Regions from separate parts of the Homo sapiens genome. Here all the other regions are linked to region 1. Evidence: fine-mapped expression QTL. A gene starts in region 1. Each other region holds a variant in brackets. All regions are shown on one strand. Distances are from middle to middle. Region 1 holds the start of PIWIL2 (piwi like RNA-mediated gene silencing 2). Region 2 overlaps PIWIL2 (piwi like RNA-mediated gene silencing 2). Region 3 overlaps PIWIL2 (piwi like RNA-mediated gene silencing 2).

The links. PIP is the estimated chance that this variant, and not a neighbour inherited with it, causes the effect. A credible set is the group of variants that fine-mapping cannot tell apart.
Region 2: its variant is the best candidate, but not a certain one, in a credible set for the expression of PIWIL2 in substantia nigra (Braineac2, PIP 0.68).
Region 3: its variant is the best candidate, but not a certain one, in a credible set for the expression of PIWIL2 in breast (GTEx, PIP 0.62).

What each region holds. Positions count from the first base shown.
Region 1 is chr8:22,273,336-22,277,689 of GRCh38, reverse strand. It overlaps PIWIL2 (piwi like RNA-mediated gene silencing 2), which reads right to left and starts at 2,374. Exons shown (of 23, transcript NM_018068.5): 1 at 2,292-2,374. It overlaps PIWIL2-DT (PIWIL2 divergent transcript), which reads left to right and starts at 2,528. Exons shown (of 2, transcript NR_134293.1): 1 at 2,528-2,711. RefSeq lists an enhancer at 1,449-2,094.
Region 2 is chr8:22,317,257-22,321,256 of GRCh38, reverse strand. PIWIL2 (piwi like RNA-mediated gene silencing 2) reads right to left here. Exons shown (of 23, transcript NM_018068.5): 20 at 2,982-3,087. Among named protein-coding and RNA genes, the nearest start is that of PIWIL2, 44 kb to the right of the region's middle. RefSeq lists a cis regulatory region at 2,600 and an enhancer at 2,516-2,685. The variant T/A (reference allele first, on the strand shown) is at 1,526.
Region 3 is chr8:22,343,366-22,347,365 of GRCh38, reverse strand. The region is part of intron 20 of PIWIL2 (piwi like RNA-mediated gene silencing 2); the gene reads right to left. Among named protein-coding and RNA genes, the nearest start is that of SLC39A14, 22 kb to the left of the region's middle. The variant A/T (reference allele first, on the strand shown) is at 1,695.

The sequences.
Region 1 (4,354 bases):
TTCTTCCTTCAGGCTGAGCACACACACACAGTGGTTCATGCCTGTAATCCCAGCACTCTGGGAGGCCCAGGTGGGAGGACCATTGAGGCCAGGAGTTTGAGGCCAGTCTTAGGAACACAACGAGACCCTGTCTCTACAAATAATTAAAAAATAGAAAAAAAAATTTTAAAAACTCTCTTCTTTCAAACTCCATCAGAAGTCTCCAGAGTACACAGTCTTTCTGCTTTGAGCCTACAATACTTGCTCAGTCTCACAGGTTGCATTTAACACCCTTCTCTCTCCCAGGTTACCCGGGGTGAGGCTCTCCCTGGCTTCCCTACCAAATCTAAAGCCCATCAGGTCTCTTCAAAATCACTTCATAACCTGTAGGTCGGGCATGGTGGCCCATGCCTGTAATCACAGCACTTTGGGAGGCCGAGGCGGGTGGATCACTTGAGATCAGGAGCTCAAGAGCAGCGTGGCAAACATGATGAAACCCTGTCTTTACTAAAAATACAAAAATTAGCCAGGCATGGTGGTGCATGCCTGTAATCCCCCCTCCTCAGGAGTCTGAGGCACAAGAATTGCTTGAACCCAGGAGGCGGAGGTTGCAGTGAGTCAAGATCGTGGCACTCCAGCCTGGGTGACAGCACAAGATTCTGTCTCAAAAAAAAAAATATATATATATATATCACTTTATAACCTACAGATTTCAAGACTCCCTCTTTAAGGGGCTCCTCTCATTGTCCTGACTTGCCCCTGATTCCTGAAAAATATTTCTTAACGGAAAAGAATTTTTTTTTTTTAAGAGACAGGGTCTTGTTCTGTCATCCAGGCTACAGTGAAGTGGTGGCATCTTAGCTCACTGCAGTCTCAACCTCCTGTGCTCAAGCAGTCCTCTTGTCTCAGCCTCCCAAGTAGCTAGGACTTCAGGCACCTGCCACCATACCCAGCTAATTTTTAAAAAAAATTTGTAGAGACGGGATCTTGCCATGTTGCCCAGGCTGGTCTCAAACTGCTGACCTCAAGTGATCCTCTCACCTCAGACTCCCCAAATGCTGGGAGAAGCCTCTTCTTAACTTTCAAAAAGCTGTCTTGGCCGGGGGTGGTGGCTCGCGCCTGTAATCCCAGCACTCTGGAAGGCCAAGGTGGGCAGATCACAAGGTCAGGGGTTCGAGACCAGCCTGACCAAAATGGTGAACCCTCATCTCTACTAAAAATACAAAAATTAGCTGGGCATGGTGGCCTGCGCCTGTAATCCCAGCTACTCGGGAGGCAGAGGCAGGAGAATCGCTTGAACCTGGGAGGCGGAGGTTGCAGTGAGCAGAGATCACGCCACTGCACTCCAGCCTGCGCTACGGAGCGAGACTCCGTCTCAAAACAAACAAACAAACAAACAAAAAAGCTGTCTTAAGTATTAGCTACAGAGAAATCATACATTTAAAGAAAATATTAACACACAATTCATAAACCCACAGCGTAAGTGCAGACAGTTCAGGAACTTGCAAAATTTATTGAACTAAACTATCCTCTTTCACACTCTAAACGCAGGATATGACTCCCTTTCTTGAAGGCTATATTTAACTGCTAACACCCCTTTTCGGTGAGCCAGGACTCTGCTCACACCTCCCCAACACCACCCAAAGAATCCCAAGCAATCAGTATGCTAACAGCTACATACTCAGAAGCGCTGGACGGCCTCCCTTAAGGGACATCTGGAATCTTCCTCTTTGTCCACGCTTCCCTCAACCTCCAGCACCACTTCTATAGATTCAGGTAGCTCCCCCAGAGGGCCCTCTCCCAGTGTGGGTTTCCCCCTGGGATCAGGTAGCAGATACTTGGCTGTCCGAAAGGTTCAATGGGGAGCGAACCCAGGACGGGCTGGGCCTGCCTCCCTCGCATCCCTGGGTGCGTGCTCCGCGCTGAGGCCTCGCGACTCGGGCCTAACCAGAAGCAAGGCCCCCGAAGGCGAGTCCCATCCCCTTTCCACCCCGAGAAAAGCACCTTTCCCCAAAGCCACAGCCCTGCCAGGGGTTCTATCTCCTCTCTCAGGCCAAATAAGACGTCCACTTGGGCCTCCGGAGGGCCTCCCCTGCCGCCCCAACCTGGACACCTTCTTGGGGCCGCGGCGCCGGGCCTCGAATAACGACTTCCCGCCCCCGCCCGACCCGCAACCCTCAGCAGCTCCCCGAAGTGGGAGGGGAGAGGCCCGGGAGGGCGGCTCACCCCACGTGCTTGAGCAAAAACCCAACCTGCCCGCCCCCGAGCGACCCTGGCCTGCCTGGCATGCCGCAACCGGGGCCAGTACTCACCTGTGCGCGAGTCCTCGCCCCAGTCGCCCAGCTCCGCGCGGCCTCAGGGGAAGACCGAGCTCAACCCACGCCCCGGGGCCCACATGCTCCAGGGCCAATTTCCGCTCTTCGAGGCCTCCGGGGATGAGCCCATTGGCCACAAGACCTGTCGTTCACAAGAGCAAGCTATCTAATTGGCCCATCTGCAAGAGAGGCTCGTCCTTTCCAGCAGGTTCCCTGTGCAGGGGCGGTTCGTGCGGAAGGAGCGCTGGGAGTTATGTGAACCTCAGCGTTAAAATGTGTTAGGGTTTGGAGATCCTGACTCCCTTTCTGGGGGCAACTCCTATAAACAGATTTAGCCTAAGACTCGCGTGTTGAAATTGACTTGCCCCATTCCTGCCAGTTAAGAGGATTAGCGATACAGGTGGTGAAAAAGAAACGGTAAGCTCGAGTGCGCATTCAAACACCTAATTCATATGATTTCTGCACATCACTTTCGTTATACATAAAACAGAGATAAAAACTAAAAACATCCATTCATAGGGTTGAATGGAAATGTACACACATAATGACATAACGTATGTAAAATACTTAGCACAAGGAGAAGACGACCCTCGATAAATGTTGCCTATTTTTATTGATGCCTAAATCTGTGAGCCAAGAAGAGCTTTCTAGGAAGCAGATTAAATTATCAGTGGTTACTTCAGCAACTACAGAATGATTTTACCCAAAGAAAGATTTCTGACCCTCTCCCAACCATTTTGTCAAATAACTGCATCCCTCTCCCACACCCAGGTTTTACAGTGTGGTTGAGGTAAAGCTTCTGAAGGCTTTGGCGGATGCTATAGAGACATCCAAGGGCTCTGCATGGAATAGGACTAGAGAAGGGTTAACCTTATTTTTTCCAGGCCTCAGATATCCCATGACTTATTTTAATCCACACATACAAGGGCCCTCCCTATCCTTCCCGAATGAGGATAGTCTGAAAATTATTGGAGCAGGATGATTTTCAACTCAGGAATCCAGTTGGCACGATGCCCCTTCACTGTTCCTAGATAGTATTTGTTTACCATGATCTAACATTTTCACTTCCTTTACCACACAACCTTCTTAACTTGCAGCTGTTGCAATGTTATGTTGTAAGCAATTCTCCTGCCTGTGCAAATACTTAATGGTAGCAAGTGCAGTCAAAAACAGTTATACAAACTGTTTTGTAACTTTCGTGAAGATCCAACTCCTTGTTCTTTTAGGAACTCCGACCAAACTTTGCATGACACACTTATTCTATACACATGAAACAATATTTTGGGGGCAGGATTCAGCAAATCTTCTAGTTGAAGTAAGGGAATAATAATCCTCAGATAATTTCCTGAGTATGTCTTCTATTTGGGAACCTAAACCAAGAGCACCATTACAAAGGGTATGCACATTGGGTTTCCTAGATTTCTATATCCTGTCCATCCATGCAAGTGTAGGTGGCCTTCGTACAGTATTTCTAGCTAATCCAGACATCATTAACACTACTTATTTAACCAAAGGAAAATCCATATAGTCCTGCTGTTGATTGGACATAAAAATGGTTGAAGCTTTCTGAAACGTGGACATCTATTTAGGACCTTTCAAAAGCTAATCAACCTCTTTTGGAGATTATATTCCCTAACAGAGTACTTTAATTGTTAATTAGCCATCCCTAGGATATTGATTAAAAAGGACACACATAATCTCATCACAAAAAGATGAGTATGTGAGGTGATGGATATGTTAATTTGGTTTAATCATTCCACAATGTAAATAAATATCAGAATATCATACTGTACCACATAACCATATGTAATTGCTATTTGTTAATTAAAAATGAAAGGGGCAAAAAGAGCACGTATATCACACTAAGAGATAGTATTTTGAGATAAATCACAGATTTTTTTTTTAACTCAAAAAAGTCGTAACACCAAATTCTGTCCACCTGGCCCTGCCAGTCTCTAAAATTCAGAGTGAAAATGGCCCCATAACTATACATAACCTGAATTTTCCTAGGCAGTCATGACTCCAAATACCCTGGGCACTTGGTCACCATAAATATTTCT
Region 2 (4,000 bases), 44 kb before region 1:
TGCCTGTAGTCCCTGCTACTCTGGAGGATGAGGCAGAGCAAGAACCTGTCTCAAAAAAAAAAAAATTCTTTTGATTCAGAGAACATTTATATTCAGATGAGCCAGTTTTATTCTAGATTTAAAAACAAATTTATTTTTTCTTTGATCTGGTTCTACAGAATTTAATAAATACTACTTAAGTTCATAGTTCAGATAAAGAAACAGAGACCAAAACAAACTGTTAATTGACTTAGAATAGAATTGTGATACTAGAAATTCAACGTAAATCACCAGGAGTGTCAGCTTAGTAGTGTAAGAGATGGAAAAGGAATCAAGACAGTCCCTGTGCTTGCAGCAGACTGCACTTTTACAAAATAGCCACAGTGGCTAGGCACGGTGGCTCACGCCTATAATCCCAGCACTTTGAGAGGCTGAGGGGGGTGGATCACCTGAGGTCAGGAGTTTGAGACCAGCCTGGCCAACGTGGCAAAACCCCATCTCTACTAAAAATGCAAAAAAATTAGCCAGGCGTGGTGGCGGGCACCTGTAATCCCAGCTACATGGGAGGCTGAGGCAGGAGAATTGCTTGAACCCGGGAGGCGGAGGCTGCAGTGAGCCCAGATTGTGCCATTGCACTTCAGCCTGGGCAATAAGAGTGAAATTCCGTCTCAAAAAAAGAAGAAAAGAAAATGGCCACAGCAGGCCAGACATGGTGGCTCACACCTATAATCTCAGCACTTTGAGAGGCTGAGGCGGGCGGATCACTTGAGATTAAGAGTTCGAGACCAGCCCAGTCTGGCCAACATGGCAAAACCCCGTCTCTACTAAAAATAAAAAAAAAAATTACCTGGGTCTTGTGGCACATGCAGGTAATCCCAGCTACTCGGGAGGCTGAGGCAGTTGAATTGCTTGAATCCGGGAAGCAGACAGAGGTTGTGGTAAGCTGAGATTGCGCCACTGTACTCCAGCCTGGGTTACAGAGTGAGACTCCGTCTCAAAAAAAAAAAAAAAAAAAAAAGCCGGGCGCAGCAGCTCACACCTGTAATCCTAGCACTTTGGGAGGCTGAGAAGCGTGGATCATGAGGTCAGGAGTTCAAGACCAGCCTGGCCAAGACGCCGAAACCCTGTCTCTACTAAAAATACAAAAATTAGCCAGGTGTGGTGTCACATGCCTATAATCCCAGCTATTCAGGAGGCTGAGGCAGGAGAATCGCTTGAGCCTGGGAGGCAGAGGTTGCAGTGAGCCGAGATTGTGCCACTGCACTCCAGCCTGGGCAACCAGAGTGAGACCCTGTCTCAAAAAAAGAAAATAGCCACAGCAATATCTCTGGTGCCACATGTTCTTTCAGACCCTTGCCACCCTTGGATTAGAAGGTGGAATCAACTGCCCTCCCCTCAAAGCTGGGTGGGACTTTGTGACTCCTTGGACAATTAGAATGCAGCAGAAGTGATACTGCATTACTTCCACAGTTAAGGCATAAAATGCAGCATGACTTCCACCAGCACTCTGTCTTGTGGAACATTCAGGCTTTGAATCCAGCCAGCA[T/A]GCAAGGAGGAGGCCCAAAGAGCCCATGTGAAAAGACCATACAACAAGGCCCACATGGAGAAATGGAGCCCTCGGCTGTGCCTTGTCCAGTTCCTGATTGTGAACATCAAACTTGCTCATTTCATGCCACTAAGTTTCAGGGTAATTTGCTACATAGCCATCCACAACCAGTGTTCAAGTAATTTACAACCCAGTGGGATGCATAAATAAGGATACAACCCAGTGGGATGGATAAATAACAAATATAAGGCAGCTTAAGAATGGAGCAGTGAGGGAAGAAGGGAAAAGTCTTCACAGATAGGTATTAGAAGACAGATCAAACTTCGAAGGAAAACAATTAGAACAACAACAAAAAGGAAAGTCTGGTAGAACTTGGTGACTCAGTAGCATAACATATGGACCTTGCTGGAGACAGACTTTAAAAAAAAATAACCTCTAATAACTGAACAGTATTAAAGTATTTGCAGGATGCTATAGGAAACATTATTCTATAAAGAGACAAGGTGGAGCCTTAGAGACTGAGTTCAATCATATGAAATTACGACATTTCTTGCTGCTTAGCCTCTATGCAAAGGTTAAGGTCTAACCCTGACCCTAAGAAATGAAAGGCACTTATCAGTGCTTCCTTTGATGTACTGGCCAAGGCAGAAATCAGTACCTTGCTTGCTCACTGTTCTAGATCCAGTATCAGCTTAATTATAGCAATCCTCCATGGTTAGCATTCTTTAGAGTTCGAGGGGTGATTTATAAGGAGGCATTTGTCTTGAACCAAAATGAAAAGAGCCAGCGCCTAATAAGTTATAAAAAGCTGAGTACACTCATAAGCTGCTTTAATTGCTGAAACTTATCCCCAACTTCCCCGATAAGGGCATGAAGATTATGTCTAGAGACATCAGGCTGACAACCTGAGAAAAAATTATTACTTACTAAACCAAATGAAAGCATTTAGCTCTTTAAGCTGATCTGTACAAGCTGAAGCCTGAAAGGAGGAGCTCTGAGCTGCCTGCTCAGTAGCAGCTGTTTAGGAGACTCACCTTTGATTTGAGATCCCTCTCACCACATCAGACTTCCTGTAAAGTGTTCACATAGGTAATCCTTAAAATCCCAGAAACTTGGCCAGGCGCGGTGGCTCACAGCTGTAATCCCAACACTTTGGGAGGCCCAGGCAGGCAGATCACCTGAGGTCAGGAGTTCGAAACCAGCCTGGCCAACATGGTGAAACCACATCTCTACTAAAAATACAGAAATTAACTGGACGTGCTGGTGCACGCCTGTAATCCCAGCTACTTGGAAGGCTGAGGCAGGAGAACCGCTTGAACCCAGGAGGCAGAGGTTGCAGTGAACAGAGATCGCACCACTGCACTCCAACCTGGGCGACAAGAGTGAGACTCTGTCTCAAAAAAAAAAATAAAAAAACAAAAAACCCCAGAAGCCTGAGAATTTCTGTTCTCCTCACCTCATAAAACTTTTTTAAGGAGCCCACGAGGCATAGCTTCAGGCTGTCCACAATCTCCTGATGCGGCATCTGGAACACCACCCGGGAATACCATTTTGTGAGGGTGCTAGGGTCAGGGTGAGCAGAGAGACAGAGAAAGGAAGATGAACAAATGCTCGAAGGGGACAGCCTATGGCTTATGTCAGTAACACAGGTTTCTCTACCAATCAATCCAAAAACAAGTACCTAGAAAATGCATTTATATGTAAGAACAAGCAGTGACATGGAGAAAAGACATATTTAAGTCATATGCAGAACATAAAAACGTGTAATTGTGGCAGAGCGCGGTGGCTCATGCCTGTAATCTCAGCACTTTGGGAGGCCAAGGTGGACAGATCACGAGGTCAGGAGATCGAGACCATCCTGGCTAACACGGTGAAACCCCGTCTCTACTAAAAGTACAAAAAAAATTAGCCGGGCGTGGTGGCGGACACCTGTAGTCCCAGCTACTCGGGAGGCTGAGGCAGGAGAATGGCGTGAACCTGGGAGGCGGAGCTTGCAGTGAGCTGAGACTGTGCCATTGCATTCCAGCCTGGGCGACAGAGCGAGACTCTGTCTCAAAAAAAATAAATAAATAAATAAATAAAAAATTTAAAAAAAGTGTAATTGTGGATATTTCCTACAAAAACTGCTCCAATAGAAAAAATTTAACAACTTAAGATATCCACCAAGAGAGGATTGGTTAAATAATGATACACAGAATAAATTCTGAGCAGCAGTTGAGTTGGTGGAGATTTATTTGTAATGATACAGGAAAATGTACAGTTTAACTGCATATTAAGCTAAGGAATAGTATGCCTAGCAATATCCCATTTGTACAAATATATATATGTGTGTGTGTGTGTTTCAGAGATATATATCACATGTATGTGTTAATATAGGCATAGAAGAGAATCTGAAAGTATATATACATCAAACCTTTGGCAACTGTTAATATGAATAAAAGCTGGACCATGAGGAATTCTCACTTTCTCAATTTC
Region 3 (4,000 bases), 70 kb before region 1:
GCGGGCACCTGTAGTCCCAGCTACTCGGGAGGCTGAGGCAGGAGAATGGCGTGAGCCCGGGAAGGGGAGCTTGCACAGTGAGCCGAGAGCACACCACTGCAGTCCAGCCTGGGTGACAGAGTGAGACTCTGTCTCAAAAAAAAAAAAAAAAATTATGTTAATGTGCTGAATTTGCTACTTTTTTTTTTTTTTTTTTGAGACAACGTCTTGCTCTGTTGCCCAGGCTGGAGTAAAATGGTGTGATGATGGCTCATGCAGTCTGAACTTCCTGAACTCAAGCAATCCTCTTACCTCAGCCTCCTGAGTAGCTGAGACTACAGGCATATACTACCATACCCAGCTAACTTAAAAATTTTTTTATACATATGAGGTCTATGTTGTCCAGGCTGGTCTTGAACTCCTGGGCTCAAGTGCTCCTCCTACCTCGTCCTCCCAGTGTTGGGATTACAGCCACGAGCGGCTATGCCCAACTAAAAATTTTCCTTAGAGATGGATCTTGCTATGTTGCCCAAGCTGGTCTCAAACACCTGAACTCAGAAGATCCTGCCACCTCAGCCTCCTGAGTAGCTGCGCCTACAGGCATGCACCACTATGCCTGGCTTATTGTTATTTCTAAGTAAATTAATAAACATTGAAATTTTTACCTTCTAATATGCTAATTATTGACAGATATGTATCCATATAAATAAAAACTCTTTGGGGCCTTCAATAATATTTAAGAATATAAAGGGGCCCTAATATCAAAAATTTTGAGAACTCCTGAACTAGAGCTACAAATCTAAATACAGATATTAAATAAATCACATGTGAGCTTAAGACTGTCTGGGAGGCTTCAGGTGGTGAACCATGAATTCTGAGAAGCCCTACAACTCAGGACAACTGGAAAAGCTGGGCAAAATATGAAAACATGTAGTTTGCGAAGGCCTTAGATGCATCCCAGCATCAGAGGAGGAAGGATGGGGCCCAGGGGAATCAGCCAAGCATGCGAAGGCATTCTTCCCTGGCAGGGCTGCTGATTCCACCACGGGAACTAAAAAGCTGTGAGGTGGAGGAGTGCTTTTTATTTTGAACAGCTTTATTGAAATATAGTTCGAAATACCATAAAACTCATCCTTTTATTTACTTTACTATTATTATTTTTAGAGACAAGGTCTCACTGCGTTGCCCAGGCCTGAGTGCAGTGGTGTGATCAAAGCTCACTGCAGCCTTGAACTCCTGGCCTCAAGCAATACTCCCACTTTGGCCTCCCAAAGCTCTGGGATTACAGATGTGAGCCAGCACGCCTGGCCAAACTCACCCACTTAAACTATACAATTAAATGGTTTTTTATTACTTTCAGAATTTTGAAACCATCACCACTATCTAATTTTAGAACATATTGATCACCCCAAAAGATTTTAATCCCATACCCATTGGCAGTCAGTCCCCCAGTGCCTCCTTCCTTTGACTCCTAGAACCTACTAATGCGCTTTGTCTCCATGGGTTGGACTATACTAGACAAATAAAATCATAAACTTTTTTATGTTTAAATAAATTTCACTAAACATAACGTTTTCACAGTTCATCCATGTTGCAGTACGTCTCAGTCCTTCGTTCCTTATTGCAGAATAGTATTCCATTATATGCATATGTCACATTTTGTTTGTCCATTCATCAATTTGTGGACATTTGTGGGTTTTTAAAATTATTTCATT[A/T]TATTTTTGAGACAGAGTCTTGCTCTGTCACCCAGGCTGGAGTGCAGTGGTGCAATCTCAGCTCACTGCCACCTCTGCCTCCTGGGTTCAAGCAATTCTCCTGCCTCAGCCTCCCTAGTAGCTGGGATTACAGGTGCACACCACCATGCCCAGCTAATTGTTTTTGTATTTTTACTAGAGATGCGGTTTCGCCATGTTGCCCAGGCTGGTCTCAAATCCCTGGCCTCAAGTGATCCGCCCGCCTCAGCCTCCCAAAGTGCTGGGATTATAGGTGTGAGCCACTGCGCCTGGCCCATTTGTATTATTTCAATTTCTGGCCATTATGAATAATGTTGCTACGAACATTTGTGTATAAGTTTTTGTGTGGACTTGTGTTTTCAATTTTCTTGGGTACACAATGTTTTCAATTTTCTTGGGTACATACCTAGGACTAGAATTCTTGGGTCATGTGGTAAATCTGTTTAACTTTGATTTTTATTTTATTTTACATATGGAGTCTATGTTGCCCTGGCTGGAGTATTGTGGCTATTCACAGGTGTGATCCTCACACACTATAGCCTTAAACTCCCGGGTTCAAGTGACTCTTCCACCTTATCTTTAAGAGTAGCTGGGACCACAGGCTTGCACCTCTAAGCCCGGCATGCTTAACTTTTTAAGGAACTGCCCAACTGTTTTCCAAAGTAGCTGCATTATTTTATTTTACAATCCCATTAGCAATCTATGAAGTTTCCAATTTCTCCATGTCCTGGACAAGACTTTTATTACTTGTCTTTTAAATTTTATTTTAATCTTTTCTTTAAAAGGGTCTTACTCTGTCACCAAGGCTGGAGTGCAGCGGCACAATCACGGCTCACTGCAGCCTTGACCTCCCAGGCTCAAGTCATCTTCCCACTTCAGCCTCTTGAGTAGCTGGGACCACAGATGTGTACCATCATGACCAGATAATTTATTTTCATTTTTTATTTTTGTAGAGATAGGGGTCTCCCTATGTGGCCCAGGCAGTCTCAAACTCCTGGGCTCAAGCAATCCTCCCACCTTGACCTCACAAAGAGCTGGGATTACAGGCATGAGCCATCATACCTGGCCTCTTTTAAATTTTAGATATCCTCGTGCATACGATATGGTACCTCATTGTGTGTCTGTATGTTTTTAAATTAAGAGACTATTTTTTAGAGGAATCTTCAAGTTTACAAAAAAACCTGAGGCAATAGAACAGAGTTCCCATATGCCCTCCTCCCACCTCCTATCCCCACCCATAAACAGTTTCCCCTTTTGTTATCATATTGCATTATGGTACACTTGTTACAACTGATGACCAAATGTTGATACATTAACTATACTCCACAGTTTACATATTTGTGTTGTACAGTTCTATGGGTTTTGACAAATGCATAATGTTATCTAGTTTCAGTGCCCTAAAAATCCTGTGTGCCACCTATTCCTTTCTCCCCCTTCCAAACCCTTGACAGCCACTTTTTACTGTCACCACATTTATGCATTCTCTAGAATGCCATTTATCATACAGTTAGAATCATATAAAGCCTTTTCAGATTACCATCTTTCACTGAGCAATATGTATTTAAGATTCCTCCATGTCTTTTCATGGCTTAATGGCTTATTTCTTTTAACACAATATTCCATTGTCTGGATGCATGACAGTTTATCCACTCACCTACTGAAGGACATCTCTGTTTCCAAGTTCTGGCAGTAATGAATAAAGTTGCTACAAACATTCACGTGCAAGTTTTTGTGTGGGCGTAAGTTTTCAACTTATTTGGGAAAATATCAAGGAGCGTGATTGTTGGTATGTGTATGTAAGTGCACATTTAGTTTAGTAATTAGCTGCCAAACTGTTTTGCAAAGTGGTTGTACCATTTCCATTCTCACCAGCCGTGAGTGAGCGTTCCTATGGCTCTACACCCTCACCAGCATTTGGCATTACCAGTTTTTGAATTCTGATCATTTATAGGTGTGTAGTGGTATCTGATTGTTTTAATTTGCAGTTCCCTAAGGGCAAGTGATATTGAACACCTGCTTGTATGCTAATTTGCCATCTATCTATCTACCTATTTTTGAGACGGAGTCTCGCTCTGTCACCCAGGCTGAAGTGCAGTGGTACAATCTCAGCTCACTGCAACCTCTGCCTCCTTGGTTCAAGCAGTTCTCCTGCCTCAGCCTCCTGAGTAGCTAGGATTACAGGCATGCGCCACCATGCCCAGCTAATTTTTTTTTTTTTGAGATGGAGTTTCGCTCTTGCTGCCCAGGCTGGAGTGCAATGGCACAATCTCGGCTCACTGCAGCCTCTG